2 separate regions of the Homo sapiens genome follow, and region 1 is linked to region 2. The links come from fine-mapping of genetic effects on gene expression. A gene starts in region 2. The other region holds a variant in brackets. All regions are shown on one strand. Distances are between the middles of the regions. Region 1 has its middle 36 kb from the start of EI24. Region 2 holds the start of FEZ1 (fasciculation and elongation protein zeta 1).

Evidence for each region. PIP is the estimated chance that this variant, and not a neighbour inherited with it, causes the effect.
Region 1: its variant is fine-mapped to the expression of FEZ1 in whole blood (TOPMed, PIP above 0.99).

The regions. Positions count from the first base shown.
Region 1 is chr11:125,527,684-125,538,655 of GRCh38, reverse strand. No RefSeq gene overlaps it. Among named protein-coding and RNA genes, the nearest start is that of EI24, 36 kb to the left of the region's middle. RefSeq lists a silencer at 4,129-4,423 and a cis regulatory region at 5,512-5,985. The variant G/A (reference allele first, on the strand shown) is at 5,273.
Region 2 is chr11:125,490,219-125,501,190 of GRCh38, reverse strand. FEZ1 (fasciculation and elongation protein zeta 1) reads left to right here and starts at 4,926. Exons shown (of 10, transcript NM_005103.5): 1 at 4,926-5,070. LOC403312 (putative uncharacterized protein MGC39545) reads right to left here and starts at 5,977. Exons shown (of 2, transcript NR_164146.1): 1 at 5,576-5,977; 2 at 1,665-4,683. RefSeq lists a silencer at 4,739-4,988 and enhancers at 4,863-5,364, 5,365-5,868, 6,371-6,874.

The DNA.
Region 1 (10,972 bases), 37 kb before region 2:
GAATTTAGTCCATTTATATTTAAAGTTAATATTGTTATGTGTGAATTTGATCCTGTCATTATGATGTTAGCTGGTGATTTTGCTCATTAGTTGATGCAGTTTCTTCCTAGTCTCGATGGTCTTTACATTTTGGCATGATTTTGCAGCGGCTGGTACCAGTTGTTCCTTTCCATGTTTAGCGCTTCCTTCAGGAGCTCTTTTAGGGCAGGCCTGGTGGTGACAAAATCTCTCAGCATTTGCTTGTCTATAAAGTATTTTATTTCTCCTTCACTTATGAAGCTTAGTTTGGCTGAATATGAAATTCTGGGTTGAAAATTCTTTTCTTTAAGAATGTTGAATATTGGCCCCCACTCTCTTCTGGCTTGTAGGGTTTCTGCCGAGAGATCCGCTGTTAGTCTGATGGGCTTTCCTTTGCGGGTAACCTGACCTTTCTCTCTGGCTGCCCTTAACATTTTTTCCTTCATTTCAACTTTGGTGAATCTGACAATTATGTGTCTTGGAGTTGCTCTTCTCGAGGAGTATCTTTGTGGCGTTCTCTGTATTTCCTGAATCTGAACGTTGGCCTGCCTTGCTAGATTGGGGAAGTTCTCCTGGATAATATCCTGCAGAGTGTTTTCCAGCTTGGTTCCATTCTCCACATCACTTTCAGGTACACCAATCAGACGTAGATTTGGTCTTTTCACATAGTCCCATATTTCTTGGAGGCTTTGCTCATTTCTTTTTATTCTTTTTTCTCTAAACTTCCCTTCTCGCTTCATTTCATTCATTTCATCTTCCATTGCTGATACCCTTTCTTCCAGTTGATCGCATCGGCTCCTGAGGCTTCTGCATTCTTCACGTAGTTCTCGAGCCTTGGTTTTCAGCTCCATCAGCTCCTTTAAGCACTTCTCTGTATTGGTTATTCTAGTTATACATTCTTCTAAATTTTTTTCAAAGTTTTCAACTTCTTTGCCTTTGGTTTGAATGTCCTCCCATAGCTCAGAGTAATTTGATCGTCTGAAGCCTTCTTCTCTCAGCTCGTCAAAATCATTCTCCATCCAGCTTTGTTCTGTTGCTGGTGAGGAACTGCGTTCCTTTGGAGGAGGAGAGGCGCTCTGCGTTTTAGAGTTTCCAGTTTTTCTGTTCTGTTTTTTCCCCATCTTTGTGGTTTTATCTACTTTTGGTCTTTGATGATGGTGCTGTACAGATGGATTTTCGGTGTAGATGTCCTTTCTGGTTGTTAGTTTTCCTTCTAACAGACAGGACCCTCAGCTGCAGGTCTGTTGGAATACCCTGCCGTGTGAGGTGTCAGTGTGCCCCTGCTGGGGGGTGCCTCCTCCCAGTTAGGCTGCTCGGGGGTCAGGGGTCAGGGACCCACTTGAGGAGGCAGTCTGCCCGTTCTCAGATCTCCAGCTGCGTGCTGGGAGAACCACTGCTCTCTTCAAAGCTGTCAGACAGGGACACTTAAGTCTGCAGAGGTTACTGCTGTCTTTTTGTTTGTCTGTGCCCTGCCCCCAGAGGTGGAGCCTACAGAGGCAGGCAGGCCTCCTTGAGCTGTGGTGGGCTCCACCCAGTTCGAGCTTCCCGGCTGCTTTGTTTACCTAAGCAAGCCTGGGCAATGGCGGACGCCCCTCCCCCAGCCTCGTTGCTGCCTTGCAGTTTGATCTCAGACTGCCGTGCTAGCAATCAGCGAGACTCCGTGGGCGTAGGACCCTCTGAGCCAGGTGTGGGATATAGTCTCGTGGTGCGCCGTTTCTTAAGCCGGTCTGAAAAGCGCAATATTCGGGTGGGAGTGACCCGATTTTCCAGGTGCGTCCGTCACCCCTTTCTTTGACTCGGAAAGGGAACTCCCTGACCCCTTGCGCTTCCCAGGTGAGGCAATGCCTCGCCCTGCTTCGGCTCACGCACGGTGCACGCACCCACTGGCCTGCGCCCACTGTCTGGCACTCCCTAGTGAGATGAACCCGGTACCTCAGATGGAAATGCAGAAATCACCCGTCTTCTGCGTCGCTCACGCTGGGAGCTGTAGACCGGAGCTGTTCCTATTCGACCATCTTGGCTCCTCCCTTCCATATTGAACTTTTATAAGAACATTAAAAAAAGGTTTTCTGCCAGGTATGGTGGCTCACGCCTGTAATCCCAGCACTTTGGGAGGCCGAGGTGGGTGGATCACGAGGTCAGGAGATCAAAACCATCCTGGCTAACGTGGTGAAACCCTGTCTCTACTAAAAATGCAAAAAAAAAAATTAGCCGGGCGTGGTGGTGGGCACCTGTAGTCCCAGCTACTCAGGAGGCTGAGGCAGGAGAATGGTGTAAACCCAGGAGGTGGAGCTTGCAGTGAACCAAGATCACGCCACTGCACTCCAGCCTGGGTGACAGAGTGAGACTCCATCTTAAAAAAAAAAAAAAAAAGGTTTTCTGTAATTTTTAAATTGGATTGGAAATTACCCAGATCCTTAATATCAATTAATAACCTTAGATTCTAAATTATATGGCAAGTTTGTTTATAAGCATTTATTTCATTACATTTACTTGATTATTTAATAGTTTATCTAGATTATTCACAACACTGTGTGTGATAGTCATTATTTAAAGTTATTTCCCTGTTAACCTTTTTTTTTTTTGAGACGGAGTCTTGCATATACATATACAGCATCGATCAGTATATGTAAGATGTATGTTGGTTTGGTCCAGAGCAGAAGGATTACTGGAAGCAGAAGCAGTGGTGGGGTGGGGGACAGGGTTGGAAGAAGCCTCCATGTCATAGATGGATTCAAAGATTTTCTGTTTGGCAATTGGTTGAAAGAGTTTATCTATAGACCTGGAATCAATAGAATGAAGTGTCTGGGTTAGGATAAAAGGTCATGGAGATCAATATTCCTTTTATGCAGATGAAGCTCCCAGGCAACAGGCTTCAGAGATAATAGATTGTAAATGTTTCTTATCAGACTTAAAAAGGTGCCAGACTTTTGGTTAATTCTCTCCTGGATCAGGAAAAAGACCTGGAAAGGGAAGAGGATTCTGTACAGAATGCAGATATCCCCGTGAGAGACAGCTTTACAGGGCCATTTCAAAATGTGTCAAAGAAATGTATTTTAGGGTAAAATACTTCAATTTCTTTCAGGGCCTGCTATCTGTTATGTGATGCTATAATAGAGTCAGTTTGGCATTTAGTGTCTTATCGTTACAAAGAATCTGTTTGATGTCAGTCTTAGGATGACAGTCTTAAGATCTGTGTCTTAATGTTAATGTTGGTCAGTTGTCCCTGAATTTCAAAGGGAGGAGGGTACAATGAGGCATATTTAACCCCCCTTCCCATCATGGCCTGGACTAGTTTTTCAGGTTAACTTTGGAATGCCCTTGAGCAAGAGGAGGGGTCCATTCCACTGGTTGGGGGGCTTAGAATTTTACATTTGGTTTTGCAAGAGTCTGTTTTTAAGCTGGGAGAAAATAGAATATTTTTATAAAAGGAAAGATCCAGAAACAAAGGAAAGTTGAAGAAATCAGGATGATAACCTAGAGGAAGATTCTTGAAGAGGTTTGAGAGAGGATAAAATTAAAAGTTCTGTGGAGTCTTTTCTATTTCTTAAGGCAAGGGGTGGGGAATTTATCAGAAATGGAGATTCTAAGGATTGACAGCAGAGATTTTGATTTAGTATATCAGGGATGGAACACAGACATTAACACTTTAAACCAGCCCTCCATGTCTTTGCTACATAGGTAGTCCAACAGTGCTCTGAGGCAGTGATAAATGCAGAAAGGGTAAAGTGCTTGGAGTAAAAGGATTTTTGTTATCATCCTTGATTTGCCCTTTTACTTACCATCAGGAAGGCTTTGTGTTTCTCGTTTTGGTTTGGTTTGGTTTATGTTGTTTTAGTGCCCATGCATCATATACTGTGCAAGCCTCTAGAAAAGGTTATTTAATTTCTCCAAGCTTCAGATCTTCATCTGTAATAATATTATCTGCCCCAGAGTAATGCTGAGAATCAAATTAAATTATATATGAGGCTATCTTCTTCTTCTGGCCAAGATGTAGTAACAGAGACTAGATTTACCCTCCTACAGGAAACAACTACAAAAACCTGACAACATACATGAAATAATAGTTTTCAGATATTGGACATCAGGTGATAGAGGACAGCGATCCCTGAGATGGGAGAAACAAATGAGATGATCCCTACTTCTGCCCCATCTTACTGTATGGAAGATACAGCACAGAGAGTGGAAACCCAGGTGGAACCTAGCAGTCTCCCTGAATTTACAAGATGGAATTGGGAGTCTTGGGAGGCAAGGTGGCTTAAGTTTGCAGGGCAGAATGCTGAAGAGGAAAGAGTGCAGAGATAGGGGTGGAAGCTCCAAGATCATGTCTTCAGCTGAGTATACATCAGTGTAAGCATATGAGGAAACTACCTTAGTTTGAGGAAGAGACACTAAAATGATTCAAGGAAATAATTCCTAAACTTCTCAAAGAGCTAGGAATATTTTGCATTTCCATAAGCCAGAAAGGAAATATATATATCATAATTATGTATAATAATTTTATACATCAATTATAATTATTTAAACAGGGTCTTACTCTGTCACCCAGGCTGGAGTGCAGTGGCATGAAATGGCTGACTGCAGCCTTTACCTCCCAGACTCAAGCAGTCCTCCCACCTTGGCAGCCCGAGTTGCTGAGACTGTGGGCATGGGCCACCATATTCAGCTAATTCTTGTATTTTTTGTGGAGACAGAGCTTCACTATGTTGCCCAGGCTGGTCTTGTACTCCCGGGCTCAAGCAATCTGCCTGCCTCAGCCTCCCAAAGTTCTGGGATTACAGGGATGAGCCACTGCACTTGGCATATATATACATAGATATACACACACATATACATATATATATATAATTAGTAAATGATATTGTTTAAAATAATTCCTAAAAGAGTATTTCCTCAGGACTGGGAAAAATTAGTCTTGTAATAAAGGCTGCTCTGGTCCTCCCTAACAAAGTTTAAACATCATCCCCATCCTTGAAAGTAAGTGTTCCAAGCAAGTTAACTGTATCCCTGAAAAAAAGCTCAAGAATATGTATATAAATATAAAAATATCCACCTCCCAACAAGAAAACATTCAGAGCATCTTACATTCAACCAAAAATGCCCAGACATGGAAAAATCAGGAAAATATGACATATAATGAGAATAATCAATCAATGGAAACAGATCTGTAAATGACACAAATGATATAATAACTAAAGGCATAAAAGAGTTACTTTAACTGTATTTCATATGTTTAATAAGGTAGAGAAAAAAT[G/A]AGCAAGTTAAATAGACTGGAAGGTTTTTAAAGGTCCAAATTGAATTAGAGACTTAAACTACAATGTCTAAAATGAAAAATATGTTATTCATTCAGAGCAAGATTCTGTCTCAAAAAAAAAGTTTTTAACTTCTTTTTTTCCCACTTTTTTGGGGGATATCAGCTCCAGCTTATTGAGTTAATGGCACTTCTCAGTTCCTAGTATACTCCCCTCCCTTTCTGTGTCCTTAACTATAAAATGTTCCAAGTGTGTGATATATGTCCATTTTATTGGAGTATCTTCTCGTGAAATGTGAACTCTTTTATGATATGTATATATTTTTAATTTATATAAATTATGCTATAGGTCTCAGCTTGTTTCTTACTTTTTTTCACTCAGCAGTGTTTTGAAGATCATTCAGGTTGATATGTGGACGTTTAGTTCACTAATCTCATTGCTGCCTAAGGAACCAGTTTGTCCTGACAGTACTGCAGGCCCCAAGGAACCCTTAGAGCATTATCTGTAAAGTCAGATGTTTGTAGGCCCCAGAGCAGATTAACTGGGTGGAGATGCAAGTAGTTGCGGCCATATGGCAACGCAGGACATGTTGCAAGACAACCAAATTCTTCAAGAGAGGCCAGGAATCAGGATTTTTGCAAGAAATCTCCTGATTTTTTCAATGTTGGAAAAACTGAAGGTCAAACAAAATATTTCTGCAAGCTCAATTTAGCCATTTTCTAACCTTCACATTAAAACATTTGAATCAGAGAATGAGATCAGATTTGTGTTTCAAAAATTAAAGAAAAGATGGACTAGAATAGAACAGAGGAGTCCAAAGATCATGAGTTGAGGTATAAATATGATTGAATTGAAGGGCCTATGGGCCGTTAAGGTGAAGATTATTGGAAACACAGACCTATCTTCCTGAAAATGTTGTGAGGAGTGGGGATTTTTTACGATATAAATCATTATTACATAGATTTGGGCATACTGTGATTCAAGTTAAAATGTATAAGTCGGCTGGGCACAGTGGCTCACGCTTGTAATCCCAACACTTTGGGAGGCTGACGTGGGTGGATCACCTGAGGTCAGGAGTTTGAGACCAGCCAGACCAATATGGTGAAACCCCATCTCTACTACAAAAAAAAAAAAAAAAATTAGCTGGGCGTGGTGGCGGGCGCCTGTAGTCCCAGCTACTCGGGAGACTGAGACAGGAGAATTGCTTGAACCCAGGAGGCAAAGGTTGCAGTAAGCTGAGATTGCGCCACTGCACTCCAGTCTGGGTGACAGAGTGAGACTCCGTCTCAAAAATAATAATAATATAATGTATAAGTCATAATGTTGACATTTTAAATATATTTAAAATATTATTTTATATATTTGTTCTTTCATTTAACAAAACATATCAGTAAAATTCATACTCATAACTTTGCACAAGTGAAGTTCTATGCTTAAACACTTGGCACATTTTCTTTTGTAGTAGTTAAAACTGTGGTTTGGTGTCAGACTACTAAGTTAAAATCTCTGAATTATTGACTATATGTATATCTTTGGATAAGTTAGTTAACCTGTCTTTGTTTTGGTTTTATCATCTGTAAAAAAAAGGCTCTTTTAAAAGCTGACTTCTCAGGCCAGGCACGGTCTCACGCCTGTAATCCCAGCACTTTGGGAGGCTAAGGCGGGTGGATGTAGGCAGATCATTTGAGGTCAGGAGTTCGAGACCAGCCTGGTCAACATGGTGAAACACCGTCTGTACTAAAAATACACACACACACACACACACACACACACACACACACACAAATTATCCAGACGTGGTGGCGCATGCCTGTGGTCCCAGCTACCCGGGAGGCTGAGGCAGGAGAATTGCTTGAACCCAGGAAGCAGAGGTTGCAGTGAGCCGAGATCACTCCATTGCACTCCAACCTGGGTGACAGAGCGAGATCCTGTCTTAAGAAAAAAAAATTAGGCCGGGCGCAGTGGCTCATGCCTGTAATCCCAGCACTTTGGGAGGCCAAGGTGTGCGGATCACCTGAGGTCAGGAGTTTGAGACCAGCCTGGCCAACATGGTGAAACCCCGTCTCTACTAAAACTACAAAAATTAGCTGAGATCGCGCCACTGTACTCCAGCCTGGGCAACAGAGCGAGACATCATCTCAAAAAAAAAAAAAAAAAAAGTGACTTCTCATGGTACTAGCATAAAGACAGATATATAGACCAATGGAATAAAATAGAGTCTGAAAATAAACCTTGCATGTAAAGTCAGATGATTTTCAACAAGGTACCAAGACCATTCAATGGGGTAAGAACAGTCTTTTCAACACATGAGGCTGGGAAAACTGAATATCCACATGCAAAAGAATGAAGCTGGACCTCTACTTTACACCATATACAGAAATTAAGTCAGGCCAGGTGGAGTGGCTCACACCTGTAATCCCAGAAATTTGGTAGGCTGAGGCGGGTGGATGGCTTGAGCTCAGGAACTCGAGACCATCCTGGGAAACATGGCGAAACTCCATCTCCACACACACACACACACACACACACACACACACACACACAAATTAGCCAGGCATGGTGGTGTTCACCTGTAGTCCCAGCAACTCTTGCGGCTGAGGTGGGAAGATCACTTGAGCCAGGGAGGCGGAGGTTGCAGTGAGCTGAGTTTGTGCCACTGCTCTCCAGCCTGGTTGACAGAATGAGACCCTGTCTCAAAAAGAAAAAAAAAAAAGTCAAAGTGAAACAAATACCTAAATTTAAGAGTTCAAACTATAAAACCCTAAGAAGAAAACATAAACTAAAAACTTCATGACATAGGATTCTACAATAATTTTTTAGATAAGACATGAAAAGCACAGGCAGCAACAACAAAAATAGATAAATTACCCAATCTCTATTAAAAAAAATACAAAAAAATTAGCCAGGCATAGTGGCGGGCACCTGCAGTCCCAGCTACGCGGGAGGCTGAGGCAGGAGAATGGCATGAACCCGGAAGGTGGAGCTTGCAGTGAGCCGAGATCACACCACTGCACTCCAGCCTGGGCAACAGAGCAAGACTGTCTCAAAAAAAAAAAAATAGATACATTGAACTACATGATAATTTAAGACTTGTGCATCAAAGGACACTATCAACAGAAAAGACAACCTATGGAATGAGAGAAAATATTTGCAAATCATGTGTCTGGTAAGGGGTTACTATCCAGAATACATAAAGAACTCTCCCAACGTAACAACAAAAAACAAACAACCAGAGTAAAAAACGGTCAAATGACTTGAATAGACATTTCTTCAGTAATGACCAATAAACACATGAAAAGATGCTCAACACTACTAATTATTAGAGAAATGCAAATTGAAACCACAATGAGTTACCACTTCACTCCCATTAGGATGGCTACTATATAGATAAACAACAATGACAACAACAAAAACAAAACAGAAAATGACAAGCATTGACATGGATGTGGAGAAATTGGAACCCATGTACATTGCTGGTGGGAAGGTAAAATGGAGAAGCTATTGTAGAAAACACTATGGTGCCTCCTCAAAAAATTAAACATAGAATTACCCTATGATCCAGCAATTCTACTTTTAGGTGTATACCCAAAAAAAGTGAAGGTAAGAATTCAAACAGATATTTGTGTCTGTTCATAGTAGCAGCATTATTCACAACAGCCAAAATGTGGAAACAACCCAAGTGTCCACTAACGATGAATAGAGAGATGAAATGTGGCACATACAAGCAATAGGATATTATTCAAGGAATTAAAGCCTTTAATTTATTTTTATTTTTTATTATTTTTTTTTTTAGAGACAGAGTCTTGCTCTGTCAAACAGACTGGAGTGTAGTGGAAGAATCATGGCTCACTGGAGCGTTGACCTCCTCGGCTTAGGCAATCCACCACCTCAGCCTCCTGAGTAGCTGGGACTAGAGGTGTGCACCACCACCTCCAGCTAATTTTTAAATTTTTCTTTTGTAGAGACGGGGTTTTTCTATGTTGACCAGGCTGGTTTTGAACTTCTGGCCTCAAGCATTTTTCCTGCCTCAGCCTCCCAAAGTGCTGAGGTTATAGATGTGAGCCACCGTGCCTGCCCAAAGCCTTTAATATTATTAAAGAAATTACAGCCTGTAGAAAAAGCAAACTGTTTTCTCATCTGCTGTTTTCACATCTGCTCTCACATCATACCATAAAAGACTTCTGTGATCTCTCATCACCAAGAAATGAATGGAGATTTCTCCCCACCAACAACCAATCAATTAGTTCTGCAGCAGGGTCTTCAGCTGACACCAGCTGAGTATCCTCTAATTCAATTCAATTCTGACGCTGTTTACCTGGAGATGGCATTAGATCCCACCGGTTGAGGGCTCAGTCCCGCAAGACTGCCCACTACTTCTGATGCCAATTGTAAGCTCCATATTGTTTTACTCGTGCTTCTGACCAGTCAACAATACATTGGGCTTCCTAAAACACTCTCAATGGGTTTGATTTATTTGCTAAAGCAGCTCACAGAACTCAGGGAAACACATTTACTAGTTTATTGTAAAAGACATTACAAAGGTTACAGATAAAGGGATACATACGGTGAGTTATGAGGGAAGGCACATGGTGCTTCCATGCCCTCTCTGGGTATGGCACCCTCCAGGAACCTTCATGCATTTAGCTATCCAGAACATCCCCGAAGCCACCTGTTCTGGGTTTTTATCGAAGCTTCATTGTGTAGGCATGATTGATTAAATCATTGGCCGTGAGTGATCAACTTGACCTTCAACCCCCACCCCTTCCCAGAGGTTTGGGGGTGAGGTTGAAAGTCCCAACCCTCTAATGATGCTTTGGTCTTTGCAGTGACCAGCCCCCATCCCGAAGTTACCCAGGGCCTGCCAGTCACCAGTCAACTCATTAGTATACATAAAGACACTGATGTCTTTGGAGGTTCCAAGGATATTAGGAGTTGTATGACAGGAGACAGGGACAAAAACCAAATATATATTTCACAGTATCCCATAAAGCCTCAAAGGAATTGGAAAAGAAATTCTGATCCATGCTACAATATGAATAAGCCTTGAAAATATTTTGCTAAATGAAAGAAGCCAGACACAAAAGGACAAATATTGTATGACTCCTTTATTTTTTTGAGATGGAGTCTCGCTCTGTCACCCAAACTGGAGTGCAGTGGCGCGATCTCGGTTCACTGCAAGCTCCGCCTCCTGGGTTCCCACCATTCTCCTGCCTCAGCCTCCCAAGTAGCTGGAACTACAGGCACCTGCCACCATGCCTGGCTAATTTTTTGTATTTTTAGTAGAGACGGGGTTTCACCATGTTAGTCAGGATGGTCTCGATCTCCTGACCTCGTGATCTGCCCGCCTCGGCCTCCCAAAGTGCTGGGATTACAGGTGTGAGCCACAGCGCCCAGCCCTGTATGACTCCTTTTATATAGGGTAGCTAGAATAGTCAAATTCATGGAGACAGCAAGAACAATGGTGGTGTCCCCAGGGCTGGGGCAAGGGGGTAATGGGATGTTATTGTTTAATAGCTACAGATTTTCAGTTGGGGATGATGAAAAGTTCTGCAGATGGATAGTAGCACTGGTTGTACAACAATGTGATGTACTTAATGCCACTGAACTATATACATTTTAAACTGGTTAAAATGGTAAAATTTTATGTTATATATATTTTAACATAGTTTTAAAAAAAAGAACAACAACAACAAAAAAACAAA
Region 2 (10,972 bases):
CAGGGGAAGTTCCATTAGGTTTCGAGGCCTGAGAAAAATCCCTTATGGTTCGATGCTCCATCCTCTGGATCCAGGGCAGTGGGCCCCATCCTAAGAGTCATTCTTTCTTTTTCTTGAAGGATAACCCATGTTTGCTGCCAAGAACGTACATCAGCCTATTTTCTGCCTGTGGAATTTCAGAGGTCTAAGACTTGTCCTTCATTTCATCTCCGTCCTTTTCATTCCAGGCTGACAGTGTTTCTGTTGGTATAAAATTCTCAGAAACCATGTTGGTCTCCTGTGTAACTTGCTACTTAGGAGTGAAAGGGATCCACACCATCATTCCTTCTTGCATTTTACTATAAGCAGCAAGGAGAAACCTGGCCAAATCTCCTACACTTTGCCTGGAAATCTCAGCTAAATATACAAGTTCATCGCTTACAAGTTCTACTTGCCTTCCAAGAGCAGGACAAAATTCAGCCAAGTTCTCTGCCACTCTATAACACAGTTTGTCTTTTGTTCAGTTTCTAACAACAGTTCCTCATTTCCATCTTAGACCTTACCAGAATCACCTTTAACATTCATATTCCTATTTGTTATAATAATATATGTATTCTCTATGACCGTAGAAACTTTCTCTACAGTCTCCTCATTTCTGAAGCCTCACTAGAATTGCCCTTAATATTCATAATTATACCAACAGTCTCTTTGGGGCAATATAGGCTTTTTCTGTCATGTGTCTCAAACTTCTTCCAGCCTCTTTGCATTACGATGTTCCAAAGGCACTTCCACATTTTTAAATATTTGTTACAGCAGCATCCCACTTTCTACTACCAAAATTTGTACTAGTTTCCTAGGCCTGCCACGACAAATGATCTTTAAATAGAAATTTATGGTTTCATGGTTCTAGAGGCTGGAAGTCCAAAATCAAGCTGTCAGCAGGGCCATGCTACCTACTGAAGGTCCTGGGGAAGAATCTTTTCTTGCCTCATTCTAGCTTTGGGTGGTTCCTGGCAATCCTTGGTGTCATTTGGCTTGTACCTGAATTACTCCAATCTCTGCCTCCTTTCCTATGCATGCTCTCCTCTTGTATTTTTTGTTTTTGTTTTTGACATAGTCTTGCTTTGTCACCTGGGCTGGAGTACAGTGGCATGATCTCAGCTCACTGCAACCTGCGCCTCCCCGGTTCTAGCGATTCTCCTTCCTCAGCCTCCCAGGTAGCTGGGATTATAGGTATGTGACACCACACCCTGCTAATTTTTTTTTTTTTTTAATTTTTAGTAGAGATGGGGTTTCGCCATGTTGTCCAGGCTGGTCTCGAACTCCTGACCACAGTTGATCTACTCACCTCCCAAAGTGCTAGGATTACAGGTGTGAGCCACCATGCCCAGCCTCCTCTCCTCTTCTTATAAGGACACCAGTCATTGGATTTAGGGCCTACCCGAATCTAGTATGACCTCATCATAACTGATTACATCTGTAAAAGTCACATTCTGAGGTTCTGAGTAGACACAAATTTTAGGAAAATACCATTCAATCCACTGCAGGTTCTAAGCAGCAGAGTTTGGAAATCAACATACTAAACATGGAACCTCTTGAAAGCATGCCTTCATTTTTAGCTCCCCAGCTTCTAGCCTAGGTCATGGAATGCAACCAATGCTTGCTGGAATTTGTACACCGATGTTGACAGCAGCATTATTTTTTTATTCTTTCTTTCTCACTCTAATCCCATGACAGATTAGTAGCATTATTCACAATAGCCAAAAGGTGGAAACAATCCAAATGTCCATGGGCAGATGAATAGATAAACAAAATGTAGTATATACATACCATGGAATATTATTTACCTTAAAAAGAAAAGAAATTCTGACATTGTTGCAACATAGATTAACCTTGAAAACATTGTGCTAAGTGAAATAAGTCAGATACAAAAAACAAATATTGTATAATTACACTTACATGAGGTACTTAGAATAGTCAAATTCTTAGAGACAAAATTAGAATAGTGGTTACCAGGGGCTGGGGAAGGGAGTACTGGGGAGTTAGTGTTTAATGGATACAGAGTTTCTGTTTGGATAACAAAATTTCTGTAGATGAATAGTGGTGGTGGTTACACAGCAATGTGAATGTGTTTAATACCAGTGAATTGTACACTTAAAAATGGTTAAAATAGTAATTTTTATGTTATATATATCTTACTACAATAAAATAAGTGTTTGCTGGAAGAATAACTGGGCTCATGTTCAGGGATTTCTCATCCTAGGTACCTAGCCTAGGCTACTTGTCCTCAGCTTTCAGTTTCTTCATAGCCTCACAAAAATAACCACAGAATCCACTAATTGGTTTCTTATTATATGCCAGGCACTGTGCTAAGCATTTTGCATGCATTATATTACTTAATATGCATAACAACAACCTTGTAGTAGATATTGGCATCCAACAGCAGATATTGGCATCTCCATTTTACAGATGAGAAAACTGAGGTACAGAGAGGATAACTAACAAGGTCACCAGCTGAAGACCAAGTTCTTTATCACTTTCAGTACTTCACAAGCTTCTCTCAAATCTGTTTGTCCCATGCTCTGAAGATCTAGACAAAAGATGGCCTCAAATTAGCCAAGACATATATATATATACATATATATACACATATATATATACACACACACACATATATATACACACACACATATATATATACACACACACATATATAGGACATCTATATGAGACATATATATGGGACATCTATATGAGACATACATGTGGGACATCTATATGAGACATACATGTGGGACATCTATATGAGACATACATGTGGGACATCTATATGAGACATACATGTGGGACATCTATATGAGACATACATGTGGGACATCTATATGAGACATACATGTGGGACATCTATATGAGACATACATGTGGGACATCTATATGAGACATATATGTGGGACATCTATATGAGACATATATGTGGGACATCTATATGAGACATATATGGGACATCTATATGAGACATATATATGGGACATCTATATGAGACGTATATATGGGACATCTATATGAGACATATATATGACATATATATGTGTGTGTGTATATATATACACACATACATACATATAGTGCCTTCTAATAAACCTGGAAGTACTTTACTCATATTCACTCCTTTAATCCCACAACAGGCCACAATAGAGTGGGGCACTATTATTTTCTTTCTTTTTTTTTTTTTTGAGTCGGAGTCTCGCTCTGTCACCCAGGCTGGAGTGCAGTGGCGCAATCTCGGCTCACTCCAAGCTCCGCCTCCTGGGTGCACGCCATTCTCAGCCTCCCGAGTAATTGGGACTACAGGCGCCCGCCACCACGCACAGCTGATTTTTTGTATTTTTGGTGGAGATGGGGTTTCACCGTGTTAGCCAGGATGGTCTCGATCTCCTGACCTCGTGATCCGCCCGCCTCGGCCTCCCAAAGTGCTGGGATTACAGGCGTGAGCCACCGCGCCCGGCGGGCACTATTATTTTCTTCATTTTACAGATGAGGAAATGAGCCACAGGGAAGTTAACTAACCCAAGGTCACAAAACTGGGCATGATCCCAAGAAAGGAGATCTAGGGATCTTTTAACCAGCTACTCTTTGTGATTTATTTATTTATTTATTTACTTTTGAGACAAGGTCTTGCTGTCGCCCAGGCTGGAGTGCAGCTTCAACCTCTTGGGCTCAAGCGATCCTCCCACCTCATCCTCCAGTGTAGCTGGGGCTACCAGGATGGGCTACCAGGATGGGCCCACCATGCCTGGCTAATTTTTTTTTTTTTATAGAGATGGGGTCTCACTATGTTGCCTAGGCTGGTCTTGAACTCCTGGCCTCAAGTGATCCTCCTGCCTCAGCTTTCCAACATGTTGGGATTATAGGTGTGAGCCACCGTGCCTGGCCTTATGATTTCTTACAGGAAGACATCCTCTGTCTATTGCTCCCACAAAGGCAAATAGGCCAACGCTTCTTCTCATCTCATTGGGACATTATTCCTGTTTCCATCCTTCTCATGGTTGAAATGTCTGTGGAATGAATGCATAAACGAGCAAAAGAGACGCTCCCTGCCCCTTCCAGTTGAAGTCCTCAGTTCAGCCCAGAGGTACTTTGCCATCAGACAAAAGTACTTGGGGTTCTCCAAGCCGACATGCTTTTTCCAGTGCCTTCCTTCGATAATTACAGTTCTTGTGCTCTTAGTTGTGTGTATTCGTGAATTATTAGATTTTTTATTGACAACTTCTATAAGCACAGGCCTATGCACAGTAGACAAGATAAATTAATAATTTTTCACAAGACTCCAGGGACCCTTCTCATTTCAGCCTCTTGAATTTTCCTGTATTATCTCAAGTCCTCCTGGGCCTGAAACCTTCTCACTCAGATTTTTCAGCTGGATCCAGCTCCCACCCAGCATCTTTGGGCGAGAAAAGCTCTCCTGCCGGCCTCCTCATTTTTGGCTTGAGGTCCGAACCCAGTTGGAGCTGGGAGACGTCGCTGGGCCTGCCCGCCTCAGCCTCCAGTAGAGGAGAATGGGAAACTCGGAAAGTCCAAAAGGGTCTTTGAGTGTGTCTGCCGGCATCCGCCAGCAGCCATCGCCTGCATTTTATCCAGAAACTAGTGTCAGGCTTTGCGAGGTATCCATATTGGTAGTTATTGCACGCTTTCATCTTGGAGTTTCTGAATATTCATGAGGGAAGCAGAAAGGCCAATGTTAAAGAGGAGAGAAACAGAAATGCATAAATATTAATAAAGGCAAGCCCACGTGCTCGGAGGAAGGCTATGAATGTTAACGAGGGGATGACGTCCAGCTCCCGCGCGTGCCAGTTGGGTGGGTGCCCGAGCGCGGGCGCGCCCCCGGAGCCCGGGCACGAGCGCGGGGAAGGGGTGGGGTGGAGGCGGGAGCGGAGCCGGGCGCCGCCGGAGCTGCGCGGGGAGCGCTCGCTGGCTGGCTGGCTGGCTGGCTCTCCGCTGCGCTGCGCTGCGCTCCGGCCGCTCCCGCGGCCCGTGGATGGGGGTGTCCGGCTGAGCCCCGGGATCCGCCTCCCTCCGCCAGGACCCGCACAGGTGCCGTCGCGGGGGTTGACTTTAGTTAGGACCCGACTCACTGCTGGGGGTGGGGTCTGGTGGGGGTGGTAAGGAGGCCCCGGGATTCTCTGACAGGACGGTCTGGGGTCGCCGCAGCTCCCCTCACCTGGTCCCATTCTGGGATTAGAAAGGAACAACGGGAGGCCGTCGCCTTCCTGCCCAGCCCTTCAGGGAGCGCAGCTGGGACGCCGCGCCAGGCCCTGGAGATGTGGGATGATGGGCACTTCCAGTATCATCTCAGCATCGGCCCTCCAGCCAGGCCTGGTGTGTGTGTGTGTGTGTGTGTGTGTGTGTGTGTGTCCGCGTGTGTGTGCCCGCGTGTGTGCGCGCGTGTGAAGGCAGGGCGGCGAGGTATGGGGGCTGGGGGAAGAAGGGAACGCCGCCCGATCGCGCTGGGGCAGTGGGTCGGTACCTCGTCCCGGGACCGTTATCTGGTCCAGTCACCGTAAACGCCCCAAGATCATCTTTGTCCCTAAAAACTTACCCCCGACCCCGCTCGTGCCCCTCCCCAGAGTGCGGAGCCTTCCCCAGACCGCGCATTCCTGCAGTGTCAGAACCGCTGGCAGCGGCCGCAGACGCCGGGAGAGCGATTGTTTTACTACAGACGGGCGGGAGAAGGGACCGGGGCGGCTGCGCGGTGGCGGGGCGCGCTGCCGTCGGGTGGGCCCCGGGCTCTGGAATGCGGGGAGCAGTGTTTGACGGCGTCGAGGAGGTATCACAGCCCGCTCTTCTTCCCTTTTGCCTATCCCTTCTCTCCTCGCCGCTAGGCATCCCCGACTCTCATCCCTCTCCCGTGTCCGGGCTTGTTTGGCCGGAAGGGCAGTGGAGTGTGTATGCGGCCTGCACGGGATGAGTCCGGCTTCCTCAGAGTGCCAGCCATTGTGCTGCCTGGAGGAGGCTTTCTTTACCCCACCGGACTGGGGGGAGGAGGGGGATCTGAGATGGAGGTGAATGGAGCAGCGGGAGGAGGGGGAGGGGAGCAAGCAGAACCGCGAAGGGGTTGCTGATCCATATGCAACGAAATACTTTTTCTGTCAAAATGTGCACAAACATGCACACTGGGTGGGTTCTGCGGAGGAGCAGTGGGAAATCTGAAGGTGGATCAGTGCAGGGTAGGTTTTAGGGACGGATATGGGGGACGAGGCACGGAATCAGTTGATCTATGGACCAAGTGATGGGAAGAAGGAGATGGAATGGGGCTTGTGTGGAGGTGCCGAGGCCCAGCGGGGTTAGCGTGGTGAAATCTCCACCGCTCCGCTCCACTCGGGTCAGCTCAGCAAAGCAGGGACTGAGCATTTGTACCGCAGCCCCGAGATGCAGCGAGTGCATCATTGTGCTGCAGGGAGACGTTTATGCGTTTCCTACTGGGTCTCTGTTAAGCCCCGTGAGTGTCTTTTCTTTTCCAAATTACACCATCTATTGGGAGTGAAAATAAATGGAATAGATTGTAGGACAATCAGACTATAGTCCTGCGCTCTGTTCTGTGGTAAAGAGAAAAAGAAAAGGCGACCCTCCCATGGTTCCTTCTTTCTGCCATTTTCATGTATGTACGTATTTATTTTTGATCTTGGAAGTCTAAAGGGAATAAGCTATCGCTTGTATTAATCCTACTTTAAGGAAAAGAAGGCTCCCAGATGAGCTATGAATGAGGATGGTGCAAGCTTGCCAGGATGGAAAATAAGGTTGTTTCAGACATTTTAGTTGAAGGATGAAAGCACTCCGTGAAGAGAGGAGGGCGAAAGAAAGTGGGCTAAAGGAAGGAAGGCAGGGTCACCATCTAAGGAAGTGCTGCCAACCCCAATCCACAGAGCCCTCCTGGAGGCTATAGTGGGGCCAGTCAGAACGCCTGACTCTCATCTGTGCCACAGCCTGAGGTCTTTCCACAAATGCTGGATTCAGTTTGGGTGTTGAGTGACTAGTTTCCCAGCACTGGCTTTCACTTTAACTTCATCTCCAGATGGTCATTCATGCAGCACTTCTTGGCTCTTGGATAATGAGTTGACAAAAAACAATCAGTCTATATTATGGACTGTTTCAAATGAGCATGTGTCTGAACCCTAGAGCTGTGATATTCATTTCGTCTTTTATAATTTTCTAGATGAATCCATTTTCTCTACACTCTGCCTGGGCAGAGTGCTTTCAGCACACTCTTCCTGTTGCCAACACTCAAAACTCAGTCTTAGTCCTAGATTCTGGTTGGATTGGCCTCTTGTTGCTGGTTAATCATATAGACTGTGTCATTTCAAATCAGAAACCCCACTGGTGTCACCATCTGCTTCTCCCCTGTCATTCCCAGAGAAAAGTACAAATTTAAAGGCAGTGTAAATACCTGCAACACTATCGGATTGGCTTTCATATCTCTGTAAAATGGAACCCACGATCCAGGAACCTTTGAACAAATAAATTGAAAAAAGAAGCCTTAGTAAAAAAGATGCTAAAATTCTTTCAGCAATAGTTCTCTTGTTTGATAAGCATATTGAAGCATTGCACAGAGAATATCATGGCAGGGATAATTTTTCTTTTACTTGAAGCACTCCCACATCACCTTTCTTTCTTTCTTTCTTTCTTTCTTTCTTTCTTTCTTTCTTTCTCTCTTTCTTTCTTTCTTTCCTTCTTTCCTTCTTTCCTTCTTTCCTTCTTTCCTTCTTTCCTTCTTTCCTTCTTTCCTTCTTTCCTTCTTTCTTTCTTTCTTTCTTTCTTTCTTTCTTTCTTTCTTTCTTTCTTTCTTTCTTTCTTTTCTCTCTTTCTTTCTTTCTTTCTTTCTTGAGATGGAGTTTCGCTCTTGTTGCCCAGGCTGGAGTGCAATGGCATGATCTCGGCTCACTGCAACCTCTGCCTCTTGGGCTCAAGCGATTCTCCTGCCTCAGCCTCCCAAGTAGCTGGGATTACAGGCACCTGCCACCATGCTCAGCTAATTTTTTTTTTTTGTATTTTTAGTAGAGACAGGGTTTTGCCATGTTGGCCAGGCTGGTCTTGAACTCCTGACCTCAGGTGATCCACGCACCTCAGCCTCCCAAAGTGCTGGGATTACAGGCATGAGCCACTGTGCCCAGCCCCCACATCACATTTCTATGTAAGTTAGCTATCCTGGTTTTCCTAGAATTATTTTTAACTTTTTTTTTTTTTTTTTTAAAGATAGGGTCTCACTTTGTCACCCAGGCTGGCATACAGTAGTGTGATCATAGCTCACTATAGCCTCAAACTCATGGGCTCAACCAATCCTCCTGCCTCAGCCTCTCCAGTTGCTGGGATTACAGGTGTGAGCCACCGTGCCCAGCTTTGATTTTTCTAGAATGATTGATATTTATTGGATGCTTTCTATATTCTGCACATTGTACTTAACACTTCAAAGATGATCTCATTTAGTCCAAAAAGTAATCTTCAAGGGAAGCACTGTTTTAAACTCCATTTTATAGATGATGAAATTGAGGCACAGTGAGGTTGATAACTTGCCCAAAGTCTCCCAACTAGGAGTGACAGGACCAGGACAGGAACCCAAAGCCTATGCTCTTAGCCATCACAGAGTACTGCCTTAATCAACACAAATCCCTGGGCTGTGAAAACTGTTTTACTCTCTACTGCATTCTGCCATCTTTTCTAATCTCACTTTTTTGTTGCTCAGGGATTCTTAATCTTTTTTGCACTATGACCTCCTTTGGTGGTATGGAGAAGCCTGTGGGCTCCTTCTCCAAATAATGTTTTTAAATGCATAAAATAAAATACTTAGTCTTGTAAAGGAAACCAATTTCATTGAAATATAGTTACCTTCAAAGAGCCTGCAGGGGTCTATGTACTGAAGATGAAGAACCCCTGACTGGCAATTACTTGTGTTTGCTTTAGAGCTGTGTTGTCCCTTGCGGTAGCCACAGGCCACATTTGACTGTTGAGCACTTGCAATGTGGCTAGTCCAAAGTGAGATGTACTGTAAATGGAAAATATACACTGGATTTCAAAGGGCTTAGTATAAAAAAAGAATAAAAACTGCCTCATTAGTTTTTTTGTGGATTACATTTTGAAATGGTAACACTTTGGATATATTGGATTAAATAAACATATTACTTCAATCAAAATGATTAATTAAATTATTGATTTATTAAAAATAACTCCTAAAGATGTTAACTCTGTACCAACACCTTCCTTATAACAAATGAGGAAATCAGGACCAATGATGCTTGTCACTCAGCCAGCCATTGGCAGATCTGTTGGCTCTCGAGCCTGTCTTCTTTCCAAGATATGGTACTACTTGTATATATTTTTGTATTCAAAGGTCCTATCATGTTGCCTTTGCAAACTGTAAATGCTCCAAATATGTTTTAAAGCAACGGTAATCAACTTAATCCCAGCAAAATCCCGGTACAAACTGGCAGTGTTCTTGCCTGGCATGTCCTTTGCCTTGCTTATTTAGAGTTTTAGTTTTGTAGGTAGAGATGGAGAATGGGCACTCCTAGGGCAAAATCCATGAATTTTGCTGTCTGGTTCCCCTCAGGAAGCGCCTCCAATTTGAGCACCTAACTATATCAATAACCCTATAGACCGAAGAGAAAAGCTTGGTAGCCTTTCTGTTGAGCGTGTAGAGAAGGGTATGATAGTCAGCAATGCTTGTGCTGCCTGAAACTGAAAATGGAAAACTGTATGTGGGAGATAGATCATTTTTTCAACGAGCACATATTGATTGACTGCCTAGCCACAGGGTAGGCAGTGTATATTTGGAGCCAGGGAAGATATCCAGAGGATTTCTGTGTCCTCGAGGAATTTAAGTTAAAATTGAATGGGGCCCAGATGTACACACAGATGGATAAATCACAGTTGGAAGCAGTGCATGAAGATGGCCCGATGAGGGGTAGAGGTCCCACAGTTGGTGGGAACTGAAGGGAGTTCTGTGTGTGCAGCGTTCCAGGGTGCAGTGCCCAAGATGGTTATGGAGTATGGCTTTGGAGCACATGGGTAGTTGGGTCTGTTTCTTACAGGATACAGGATAATAGATCATTTAGTCTATTCCTCTGCTCCTAGGCATATGCTCTATGTGTGGGAAAACCTTGGGTGCTTGTCTGGGCACGGTGGCTCATGCCTGTAATCCCAGAACTTTGGGAGGCTGAGGCAGGTAGATCACCTGAGGTCAGGAGTTCGAGACCAGCCTGGCCAACATGGTGAAACCCCATCTCTACTAATAATACAAAAATTAGCTGGGTGTGGTGGCACACGCAGCTACTTGGGAGGCCAAGGCATGAGGATTGGTGGAACCCAGAGGTGTAGGTTGCAGTGAGCTGAGATCACACCACTGCACTCCAGCCTGGGCCACAGAGTGAAGCTATGTCTCAAAAGCGAAACGAAACAAAAACAACTCAGGCATTTATTGGAAGGTCTCTATTGATGTTTTATTAGTTTTTTTAAAAAAATAAAAATAGAGATGGGACCTTACTATGTTGCCCAGGCTGGTCTTGAACTCCTGAGTGAGCTCAAATGATCCTCCCACCTCAACCTCCCAAAGTGCTGGGATTACAAGCATGAGCCACCACATCCAGCCAATGTTTTATTAGTTTCTACTATTTATTGATAAGGGTAGTAATATCTAGGTATACAAACCCTTATCCAAAACCCCTGGGGCCAGGCATTTGGAATTCAGATTATTTCAGATTTTGGAAAGTAGTAATAGAGTGTACATTCCGCATTTCATCCAGTGGGATCTGGGATAGCAATCTTTGTAATTAAAAAGTTAATATTTCTGCAGCAAAACACACAAAATGGGATAAATTAAAGCCATGAACAGCTTTATATTCATGTTGGTCATGTTTAGTTGCCAGATGAGTTTAGATCATGTCACATTTTGCTGCCAAACAAGTCATGGAGAATTTTCAGCTTTCAGATCACATAGTTAAGGATA